3 linked regions of the Homo sapiens genome follow. The protein of the gene in region 1 purifies or fractionates together with the protein of each later gene. This does not show direct contact. Each region holds a gene or a part of one and is shown in the gene's direction. Other genes may lie near its edges.

Region 1 (3,600 bases):
TTTTGTCTCCTGCTCTTTAAATGGAGGAAATTGTTCATGTAGGAAAAGACCAGGAAGTGTGATTCTGCTTTCTGCTCTGTGTGGTTCAAGCTCTGTTTTGTTAATTACATGTTTATACCAAGGGGTGGAAAGGTTTTAATTCATTAACACAAGAGTGTGTTTTTCTTAAAGTCCTATATTAGAACTTCTGTGAATCCAGACTGCCTTGGCAATGAATATTTTGATTTTCATGGCTTTTGAAACATGAAAATACCTCTGGAAATAGTCTGGTGCCACTGGGGACTTCACTAAGAACTAAAATTAAATTTTAGTAGAAGGCAGAAAGAAAACTCATGCTTTCATAATGGTTTATATCTTGCTGTCATCAAATGCTTTTCTTTCTTCAGCATGTTTGCTGTGACTGCAAGAAGGATTTTTGCTCCGTTTGTTCAGTCTTACAAGAAAATCTCCGTAGATGTTCTACTTGTCACTTATTACAAGAGACAGCATTTCAGCGCCCTCAGTTAATGCGACTGAAGGTGAAGGACCTGCGGCAGTATCTCATTCTGAGAAATATACCCATAGATACTTGTCGTGAGAAAGAAGACTTGGTGGATCTAGTACTGTGCCATCATGGACTAGGCTCTGAGGACGACATGGACACAAGCAGTCTGAATTCTTCAAGGTCCCAGACTTCTAGCTTTTTTACACGTTCGTTTTTTTCAAACTATACAGCCCCCTCTGCTACTATGTCTTCGTTTCAGGGAGAGCTTATGGATGGAGACCAAACATCCAGATCTGGAGTGCCGGCACAGGTACGAGGGGGTAACTAATTACACCCAGGGCCCGGCACGCTTATTCTTGGCCGTATATGGTGGGGCCTTTAGTGCTTGATGACTTCTGATAAACTTCAAGTCATGTGCTGGAGTGAAGCTTCCACACCCAGCTGAACTCTGCACTTAAAGGCTGTCCTGATGTATAGTGTCTGCTGAGGTGCTAGGTGGCTCCAAAGTCTGCTGTCTGAAGGGTCCCAAAATAGCTCATCAGTCTCTTGGCCTTAGTTAATTTCTCTGTCTTACACAGTTAGACACTAACTGTTGAAGAAATGGCTGTGAAAAAGTAGCACATACACATTTGTAGTGTTATGTGTTAGTGCACGTGTTTCAGTGACCACAGAAAACAATCAGTAGTGTAAGTTAGCCTAATGCCCATTTGTCTTGCTACAGTGAAATTGTTCTAATTTAGTTAATGAAAGAGCCATCTGAATTAGTGAAAAAATGTAGTTATTTACTAATTGTAATTAATAATATTGTCCCAGTGAGGTCCTTGGACATCCTGATTGAATAACATGTAAAGGCTTGTAATTAATATTTACTTGTACGTGAGTGATTCTAAACTGCTGAAAGAAATGTTTTGAACAAATTTTTTCACGCTTAATTTTCTTCTCTGAAGAAGGGGGTTATTAAAAGTAGAGGAAAGCTGGATGCGGTGGTGTGAGCCTGCAGTCTGATACTTGGCAGGCTGAGGCAAGAGGATTGCTTTAGTTCAGGAGTACGAGGCTGCAGGTGTACCATGATTGCAACTGTGAATAGCCACTGTACCCCCAGCCTGGGCAACATAGCAAGACTTTTTTTTTTGTTTGGAGGCAGAGTCTCACTCTGTTGCCCAGGCTAGAGTGAAGTGGCGAGATCTTAGTTCACTGCAACCTCTGCCCCGCTGGGTTCAAGCAATTCTCCTGCCTCAGCCTTCCGAGTAGCTAGGATTACACCCCAGTTAATTTTTGTATTTTTAGTAAAGATGGGGTTTCACCATGTTGGTCAGGCTGGTCTCGAATACCTGACCTCAGGTTATCTACCTGCCTTGGCCTAAGTGCTAAGATTACAGGCATGAGCCAACCGCGCCTGGCCAAGAGTGTCTTTTAATTAGTAAATGAATAAATGCAGAGGGAAATTTGGTCTAATTGCCTTCTAGATATAGTCCTGTGTCCTCTAATAATGTTTTGGTCAGTGATAGACCACATACACGGCAGTGGTTCTGTAAGATTATAATACCATATTTTTATTGTACCTTTTTTGTGTTTAGATATGTTTAGATACACAAATACTTATTACTGTGTTATAGCTGCCTACAGTATTCAGTACACTAACGTGATGTACGGCTTCGTAGCCGGCCATGCCCTATAGCCTAGGTGTGTAGCAGGCTGTGCCATCTAGGTTTGTGGAAGTACACTGTGATGTTCGCACAATGACAAAATCGCCTAAGGACACATTACTCAGAACGTCTCCTAGTCGTCAAGCAACACATACTGTAGTCGTAAATTAGATAAGTCCAAGCCAGGAGTTTTATTATTCTCCCAAATGAGAATTGGCATATTTATGCTGCAAACATAAGGCACAGCTGACTTACATACCCCTTTTGGGTATACACCACCATTTGGGTGATGTGGATTGTTGGATGCTACAGTATGGTGCCTGGCAATCAGGGTGGAATATTTGAAATTGGGAACCGACCTAGCTTATTGGAGAGCTATTGTCAAATATAGTCAAAAGAAAATATGTGAAGGAAGGTACATAACCCAAACTGAAGAGATTTGTGTTTTCTAAAGTGTTCTGATTGAGAAATTTTAAAAACTAGAATTAGCCTCAGCCATCAGTGAAGTCTAGAAAGCCTTCGTTGGAATTAGATTGTCTAAGTACGCTGTGGTAGGACTGAGATCTTTCAAATCAGATGCCCCTGATGCTTGGGCTGACCCATCAGAGCTTTAGCTTTTTTCTGTCTGCATCTTACAGGCTCCAGTTAAACTAGCCATTTGCAGGTACTTTGATAATGACACAGTGCTGTCCCATATCCTTAATGGCTTTGGCATTCCATTATGGGACCTTCCTGAGAGAGTTAATACTCTGGTTAGATTTTATAACTTTACACACACACAGGAATTTGTGTTTTGAGCTAACTTTATGGAAGGTAGGTTCTTCATGCAATTTTGTAGGGCCCAACTTTTTGGAAGGGTCAGCAGCATTCTGAATCCAAAGATGTGCATTATGCTGGCTTTCTGGTCATCATGGGGAGCATCAATGACAAGGTTTTCTCTAGTGATAAATACAGATTGATTCCTGACCTAATCAGATACGTTGTATAAGTGTAGGTACAAAGTGAAATCACTTCAGCAAACACAGAAGATGATGATGACGACGATGATGAGGATGATGATGATGAAGAAGAAAACGCAGAGGATCGGGTGAGGCCACCTATAAAATTTGGTTTCCCTGACATGTCAGCCTGACAGGAAGGGACAGTGCCCTGTGGACATTCGCTAGATTAGTACAGGATGTTTCTTCTGGTTTGAATGTAGGACAGTATACTGAAACACTTCTAGGACTGCTGAGATGGCTGGGAGAATATTCAGGGCCAGTGATGAGTTTAGAGTGGGGAGGGTCTGGACTTATGGGACCAGGGCTAATGGATGCTCTGTGGTTTCAGAACCCCGGGCTCTCCAAGGAGAGAGTGAGAGCTTCACTGTCTGACTTGTCAAGCCTTGATGATGTGGAAGGAATGAGCGTGCGCCAGCTGAAGGAAATTCTGGCTCGGAATTTTGTCAACTATTCTGGCTGTTGTGAAAAA
Region 2 (3,822 bases), on another chromosome or scaffold:
ATTGGCCATTCTATGTATTTTATCTAATTCTACAGGCTCAGTGCCTGTTCCTCCATCCCTCCCCATTAGACTGTCAGCTCCATGAGGACAAGCATTGGTATATCTGTGTTCGTTTCTGCAACCCCAGCACAGACCCTAACACATAAAGGTATTCGATAATAAAATTACTAAAGCTGGGCGCGGTGGCTCACGCCTATAATCCCAGCACTTTTGGAGGCCGAGATGGGCGGATCACTTGAGGTCAGGAGTTCGAGACCCGCCTGGTCAATACGGTGAAATAAACCCTATCTCTACTAAAAATACAAAAATTTGCTGGGCGTGATGGTGATGCATGCCTGTGATCCCAGCTACTCGGGAGGCTGAGGCATGAGGATCGCTTGAACCTGGGAGGCGGAGGTTGCAGTGAGCCGAGATCGTGCCACTGCACTCCAGCCTGGGCGACAGAGCGAGACTCTTGTCTCAAAAAAAAAAAAAAAAAAATTCTTGGATTTTTGTCTATTATATTTAATACTCATTCAGCGTTTAAATGATATATATACTCATGACCCACCAATTCCACTTCTGGAATCCTGCACTGGGAAACCGCTCACCTGAGGGCAAACCAAAGCACCTACACAGCATGTTCTCCACAGAACTATTTCTAATGGCCAAAAAAATGGCAAGAACCTAAATACAATCGGGGAGTGCAGTGCCATCCTATCGCGTGCTGAGCACCAAGAGAAAGAACGAAGACCTATATCATCACCATGAAGCGTCCCGAGAGATACAGCGAGTGACAACGACAAATCAGCCAAATACTCGCGCAGCATGATTTTTTAAAAAAGCGATTAGATTACAAAAACTATACGTTTTCCAGTTGCATAGACACGCACGTAAAAGCACAGAAACGCGTCTGCAAAGTCACCAGACTATTAACAGCAGTTACCTCTCGGAAAGGAAAGGAAGGACTAAGTCTGGAGATAATTTAATTCGCTACAAGAACGTTCTGGTATATTCTCTCGTACTTCCACATTAATTTTAGAAGGCTGACAAACCAATGCTTTAGACTCCGGGCCGTAACTCTCAGGGTCACTCATCCATCCTCCACTGTTGCTGCTCCCCGCGGCCACCCCCGCGCCGGCCAACAGCGCTCCTCACTCACCAGACACGGGTGAAGGATCCCTCTTGGCCTGGAGGCGACTGGCCTGAGGCAAGAACGGGTTGTTCACCCTACGGGAAGCGGCAAGGTCAGCGGGGAACGGGCCCGGGCCGTCCCCCGCTCGAGCCGCCAGCCCGCGAGGCTGCTCACCCAAACGCGTTGGGCTCCTCCACCACCTTCATCTTCGCTGCACCTGCCGGCGCGGGCCCTACGGGGAGCGAGACCGTGAGCGGGGAGGCCGGGGTGCAGAGCGCGCGCGGGGCCTGGGGACGCGGACGGCCGGGCCACTCACCGCCGGCCGAGAGCCCGAGGAGCAACAGGAGCCGCGCCAGCCCCGCCGCCATCGCGCCGCAGCGGCCGCCGCGCGGTCACGTGAAGTGACGGTCACGTGACCACGGGGACCGGAAGTGGCGTCCGGCGCAAGCGCTGGCAGCCGCACAGCCCATTGGGAGGCCGAGGGGCGCGGCCGTGGGGTGGGGAGTCCCCGGCACCCCAGGTCCGCGCCATGGGCCGCAGGAGGGCAGCGCGCGGGCCGGGGGCGGAAGGCGGCCGCCCTCGGCACCTCCCGACGCGCTCCCTGGAGGCCTTCGCCGAGGAGGTCGGCGCCGCGCTGCAGGGTGAGCGAGGCGTGATGGGGAGAGCGGGTCAGGGTTTGAGGGCCTGCCCGGGGGTCCCACGCTGAGGCCGAGTGCCCTTCTCTCTCTCGTGCAGCTTCCGTGGAGCCAGGGGCGGCTGACGGCGAGGGCGGCCCGGGCCCGGCGGCGCTGCCCTGCACGCTGGCCATGTGGGAGTTGGGCCACTGCGACCCCCGGCGCTGCACGGGCCGCAAGCTGGCCCGCCTGGGGCTGGTGCGCTGCCTGCGCCTGGGCCACAGATTCGGCGGTCTGGTGCTGAGCCCCGTGGGCAAGCAGTACGCGTCCCCCGCAGACAGGTAGGCGCGGGAGGCCTGCCCGAGGTCGTCTTCATTTCCAGCGCGTGGTTCCCTTCAGGGATGGTTTAGTGGCACTTGTATGTCGCACCCACATCCACACCCACGTGGGCAGGGAACGTCTGTCTAGTTTGCCTCCGTTGCGTAGCGCAGAGCCTGGGATAAAGGAGGTTTTGGGGTAATAAACGTTTGTTGAGTGAATAAACACATGCTCCAGGTGCCCCAAGCAGCTGCCTCAAAAGCTTGCTCGTGAAGTCCGTTTGAGGGTGTTTGGGGATGGCGGAATGATGTCCCTGAATCCCTTAGCTAGGCCATTCTCCGGGGCATGCTCCACCTTGGGTAGTGCTGGCTCCTGAACTTATCCCATGCTGTCCCTGGCAGACAGCTGGTGGCGCAGTCTGGGGTCGCCGTCATCGACTGCTCCTGGGCCAGGCTGGACGAGACACCGTTTGGGAAGATGCGAGGGAGCCACTTGCGCCTGTTGCCCTACCTGGTGGCCGCCAACCCCGTGAACTATGGCCGGCCCTACAGACTTTCCTGCGTGGAAGCGTTTGCTGCCACCTTCTGCATCGTAGGTGAGTCCAGGGGCCCCACAGCAGTGTGACCCGGCGGCCTGCTGTTCCTGCTATGCTCCCAGCATCATGTTTCCTGCCGACAGACCCCAGGAGGAGCATAAGGGACGGACAGGGGAACAGTTCAGACAGACCACGGTTCCAGCCCCAACTGTCACTTCAGGTTTTCGGCCTGTGGAGTTGCAGTAGAGGCAGAATGGGATCGCTGTTCTATCAGGGCCGGTGTGTGGGGTGCCATTCATTATCAGGGCACCACTGCCCAGAGAATCCTCCTTATCCTCCACGTCCTCCTTACTGAATTGCTGATCTAAAGAGGCCCTGATGAGGCGTGGGGCAGTCTTGGTGGGAATGTTTGTTTCGCAGCAAAGGAGGGGGACTTGGTCGGTTGCAGAGGTGTGGACTGTAGCAAGGGAGGTGCAGGCTGGGGGCAGCACGGGTTCTCAGGACTGTGAGCTGATGTTTGCTGGGGACCCTGCGGTTACTTGGGAGAGCGCCGCCATCCGGCAGCAGGGTGATCAGGAGGCACTTGAGGGGACCGTCGACTTCTTTGGGTTTCCTGTTTCTCACACCGTCAGGCTTTCCAGACCTTGCTGTCATTTTGCTGCGGAAGTTTAAATGGGGCAAGGGCTTCTTGGACCTGAACCGCCAGCTCCTGGACAAGTACGCGGCCTGCGGCAGCCCGGAGGAGGTGCTGCAGGCGGAGCAGGAGTTCTTGGCCAATGCCAAGGAGAGCCCCCAGGAGGAGGAGATCGGTGAGCCTTGGCGGGGTGGGAACCAAGGCCCTCCAAAGCCTGGGGGGTGGGAGGCCTGGTCCTGCTCTGAGCTCACTTAGAGGCCACTTTCCTCTCTCGGCTCAGATCCCTTCGATGTGGATTCAGGGAGAGAGTTTGGAAACCCCAACAGGCCTGTGGCCAGCACCCGGTAGGTCCTTGGGCTTAATTTCATGATCACTCAGACCCAGGGCTCTCTTCTACCTCTGGCCTGAGCCCTTCCTGCTGCCTGGGGGTGGTGTTGTAAACAACACCCCGATGGTCTTCTGACTAGAAAACCTGCAGTGCATGTCCCACTGGAGAGGTTTGGGTGTGGAGAGCACAGGGAGGAAGAGGAATCTGTCCTCGGCTGGGGGCTTTTTGTGGATGACGTTGACTCCAGCTAGCCAGGGAGGACGTCATTTGGGAACGTGC
Region 3 (3,822 bases), 700 kb from region 1:
ATTATTTAACAGTGTTGGTTTCTCTCTCTTGTTTTCAGATTATTTATGTAAACCCGAAGACAACATCTACAGTATTGATTTCACCCGCTTCAAAATTCGAGATTTGGAGACAGGGACAGTACTTTTTGAGATTGCCAAACCTTGCGTTTCAGGTAGGCCTCTACGTTGTGGTGACCACTAGACAGTTTTGAGCCAAAGGTCTTTGAAACTCAAATCTTTGTGTGCCACTGCATCCTGTTTCTTGGACTCCAGTGTGTCCCACTTCTGTGACCTCTTCCCGTGGCCTGGTCTGCCAGGCATGGTGGTTTGAAGCTGCGTTCAGAGGCTGATGTTTGTTGGATGTCTATTCTGTGCTGGTCACTGTGTTCCACGTCTTTGTGCACATCAGTGTATGTAATCCTCACACCTCTTTGAGGAATTACTGTTATCTCTGTTTTACAGCGAAGGATCTGAGGCCTACAATTCCCAGGCGGCTCTTTCCTAAGGCCCTGTGCTGGTTCATCTTACCATGTTGCCTCCAGTTGGGAAAGGAATCCTTGAAATTAAACTATAATGAGGAAAACTCACCTGAGCCTGGTGCCCTCTTGGAGGGTGATAGGGAGGATCCTGGTCCAGACATGAGGCAGTTTGAGCCATCTTCTTGCTCTCTTTTACATATTGCCTTGGAGTTCCCAGACCTAGTTTGGATTTTAATCTCAACCATTTTCTGGAAGAACAGACCCAGGAACTCAACTACTTGGGGTTCCTTAAATTAGCCTCCCATAGCCGCTTCCTGTGCTTGTGATAAAGTGCCAGGCTGATCTGGACCACAGAAGCCTTTGGAGCACCTCACTGGAGGTTTAGCGCCCCCTGGAGTTAGTCATTTGTTAGAACACTGGTACAGATACCCATAGTATCAGTGTGGTTTGTAAACTTACTTTGCAGTGTTTCTCATCTGATTTGCTACTTAGAGCCTGCAAATTTGATAAGGCCCCGATTTCACCCCTACCTGGTGGTATTTATGCTATCATAATCTCATACTGACCAAGGCACCTAAAGGCTCAAGTTCATGGGTAATTTTGTTGTTGTTGTTTTGTGGGTTTTTTTTTTGTGTTGTTTGTTTTGAGACACAGTCTTGGTCTGTCACCCAGGCTGGCGTGCAGTGGCACAATCTTGGCTCACTGCAACCTCTGCCTCCTGGGTTCAAGAGCTTCTCCTGCCTCAGCCTCCCAAGTAGCTGAGATTACAGGTGCCCACCACCATGCCTAGCTAATTTCTGTATTTTTAATAGAGACGGGATTTCACCATGTTGGTCAGGCTGGTGTCAGACGCCTGACCTTTGATTCGCCTGCCTTGGTCTCCCAAAGTGCTGGGATTACAAGCGTGAGCCACCGCGCCTGGTTGCTTATGGGTAGTTTTTTATTGGGATGGTCAGATCAAGACCAGCTAGCTTCCTGGGTCTGTGGTGTTCTCATCTCTAAGCCACATATCACAGTACCTGGGACATTGCAAGGACTCCAGGCCTACTACAGGTATGTGGATTTGGATTAGACTCAAGAGTTGTCATTTCAATATAAGACGGAACTGTTTCAAGAAGGTCAGCTGAAGATACTGTAAAGTATCTTGGTTTTCAGTCTCTCTAGTTTTTACATTTAAGGATCTTGATTCACTTGTAATATTCCCCACATTGAGGCTGGGTGCGGTGGATCACACCTGTAATTCTAGCACTTCGGGAGGCTGAGGCAGGCAGATCACTTGAGCCCCAGGAGTTTGAGACCAGCCTGGGCAACATGGCAAAACCCCATCTGTACAAAAAATACAAAAAAATTAGCCAGGCGTGGTGGCACATGCCTGTGGTCCCAGCTACTCAGGAGGCTGAGGTGGAAGGATGGCTTGAGCCTGGGAGATCAAGGCTGCAGTGAGCCGTGATCACTGCATTGCACTCCAGCAAAGGTGACAGAGTGAGACCCTATCTCAAAATAAATCAATAAATATAAACAACAGATTATCCTCACACTGAATCACTACCTTTCTGCAGCACTTGTTCTGATGAATTTGAATCCCCAAGATTTGCTGTCTCTCTGAGTCACATTGTTGGAGCCAGGGTTTTAGAGTCTCTGGGGGTGAACCCCTACTCAGCCTGGTTGCCCAGTCGCTCTTGGGCTTGTCAAAAGCAGAGATGTTTGATGCTGAAAAAGTCTTCTCTTATGTTGTACTCATGTACAGCTTAGACCTGGAGAAAATATCCTCACTGGACACTGGAGGGTACTAACTCCTATTCACATTAGAATGCTTGTTCTCTGATTCTTTTTTTTTTTTTTTTTTTTTTTTTTTTTGAGACGGAGTTTCACTCTTGTTGCCCAGGCTGGAGTGCAATGGCACAATCTCGGCTCACTACAACCTCCGCCTCCCGGGTTCAAGCAATTCTCCTGCCTCAGCCTTCCGAGTAGCTGGGATTACAGGCATGCGCCACCACGCTGGGCTAATTTTGTATTTTTAGTAGAGACAGGGTTTCTCCATGTTGGTCAGGCTGGTCTTGAACTCCTGACCTCAGGGGATCCGCCTACCTCGGCCTCCAAAAGTGCTGGGATTACAGGCATGAGCCACCGTGCCCAGCCCTCTGATTCATTTTACAAATCTTTCATCTCCTGGGTTCAGGAATGGACTAGACCGGAGACCAGCATTAACCTTGTAGAGGCCACCACATCTGCTTCACCCTTTCCCAGGTGGTCAAAGGGTTAGGCCTGGTATGGCCTAGAAGTAAACATCAGTCAAGGAACTATAGTATCCCAAGGCTGTAGGTCAATGTCTTCTATTTAAATAACAAAATTATTTTTAGTGGTTTATCTTTGCAGCCTGTCAGAAATTTTTATATTCATTGAAATAACTTTCTGATAAGTGTCAACTTTTGTAGCCTCATTCTTTTAGGTTGGTGCTAGCGCTTCAACTTGGTTAACTGCAGACCTAGTCTGAATAGAATAGACCATGTCAGAGGCCCAGTTCCCAGCTTGTGTTTCAGGTTTCACCCTTAGGATATGGCATAAGCTCTCAAACTATTAAAAAAGGCTAATAGCTTAGTGTTGAAGAACAGGCCTTGAGTCAGATGGACCTGGATTCAAATCCCTGTTCCCTCCTCTTACTGTTTGAGGGACTTTGGACATGTTACCTGACTTCTCTGAACTTGAGCTTCCTGATCTGTAAAATAGAGACAGTAACACCTCGAAGGGTTGTTGTAAGGAGTCTGGACTATGGCAAGTGTCCTGCTATATAGCAAGTGCGCAGTAAACACTGGCCATTCTTCTTGTTGGTGTGGTTACTGGGATTGGTTGCCATTGTGCTGTTGGGACTGGTGATAGAACTCTTGGATTGAGAATGTCGAGATGGTGCACTGAAGATTCTGTGTGCTCTTTCAGACCAGGAGGAGGATGAGGAGGAGGGAGGTGGAGACGTGGACATCAGCGCAGGACGTTTTGTCCGCTATCAGTTCACACCGGCATTTCTCCGCCTCCGGACAGTCGGGGCTACGTGAGTACCATTACTACCTGAGGGGAGAACATTCTGTTTGTTCACAGAGAAGAGTGTTTTCGGTTGGGTTTTGGGTTGGCTTTAGAGGAGGGAGGAGGCAAAGTCGGGCTTACAGAGATTTATTTTCCAGGGTGGAGTTCACAGTGGGAGACAAACCTGTTTCAAACTTCCGGATGATCGAACGGCACTATTTCCGGGAACACTTGCTGAAAAACTTTGACTTTGATTTTGGCTTCTGCATCCCCAGCAGTAGGAACACTTGTGAACATATCTATGAGTTTCCCCAGCTTTCGGAGGATGTCAGTATGTATCCCCTGA

The links.
Region 2: the proteins of RNF34 (region 1) and TSR3 purify together in Homo sapiens (affinity purification with mass spectrometry; 2 studies listed by BioGRID and IntAct, with this or other methods). This does not show direct contact.
Region 3: the proteins of RNF34 (region 1) and UNC119B purify together in Homo sapiens (affinity purification with mass spectrometry; 2 studies listed by BioGRID and IntAct, with this or other methods). This does not show direct contact.

What each region holds. Positions count from the first base shown.
Region 1 is NC_000012.12:121,417,118-121,420,717, forward strand, and holds part of RNF34 (E3 ubiquitin-protein ligase RNF34), read left to right. Parts: intron 1-386; coding exon 387-794; intron 795-3,124; coding exon 3,125-3,217; intron 3,218-3,459; coding exon 3,460-3,600. UniProt on the Homo sapiens protein: E3 ubiquitin-protein ligase that regulates several biological processes through the ubiquitin-mediated proteasomal degradation of various target proteins.
Region 2 is NC_000016.10:1,349,626-1,353,447, reverse strand, and holds the start of TSR3 (18S rRNA aminocarboxypropyltransferase), read left to right. Parts: upstream 1-1,569; 5' UTR 1,570-1,643; coding exon 1,644-1,755; intron 1,756-1,849; coding exon 1,850-2,069; intron 2,070-2,447; coding exon 2,448-2,641; intron 2,642-3,213; coding exon 3,214-3,390; intron 3,391-3,495; coding exon 3,496-3,559; intron 3,560-3,822. Other genes in the region: GNPTG (N-acetylglucosamine-1-phosphotransferase subunit gamma precursor), read right to left, coding at 1,142-1,209, 1,289-1,346, 1,431-1,482. UniProt on the Homo sapiens protein: Aminocarboxypropyltransferase that catalyzes the aminocarboxypropyl transfer on pseudouridine at position 1248 (Psi1248) in 18S rRNA.
Region 3 is NC_000012.12:120,713,236-120,717,057, forward strand, and holds part of UNC119B (protein unc-119 homolog B), read left to right. Parts: intron 1-38; coding exon 39-152; intron 153-3,392; coding exon 3,393-3,504; intron 3,505-3,634; coding exon 3,635-3,807; intron 3,808-3,822. UniProt on the Homo sapiens protein: Myristoyl-binding protein that acts as a cargo adapter: specifically binds the myristoyl moiety of a subset of N-terminally myristoylated proteins and is required for their localization.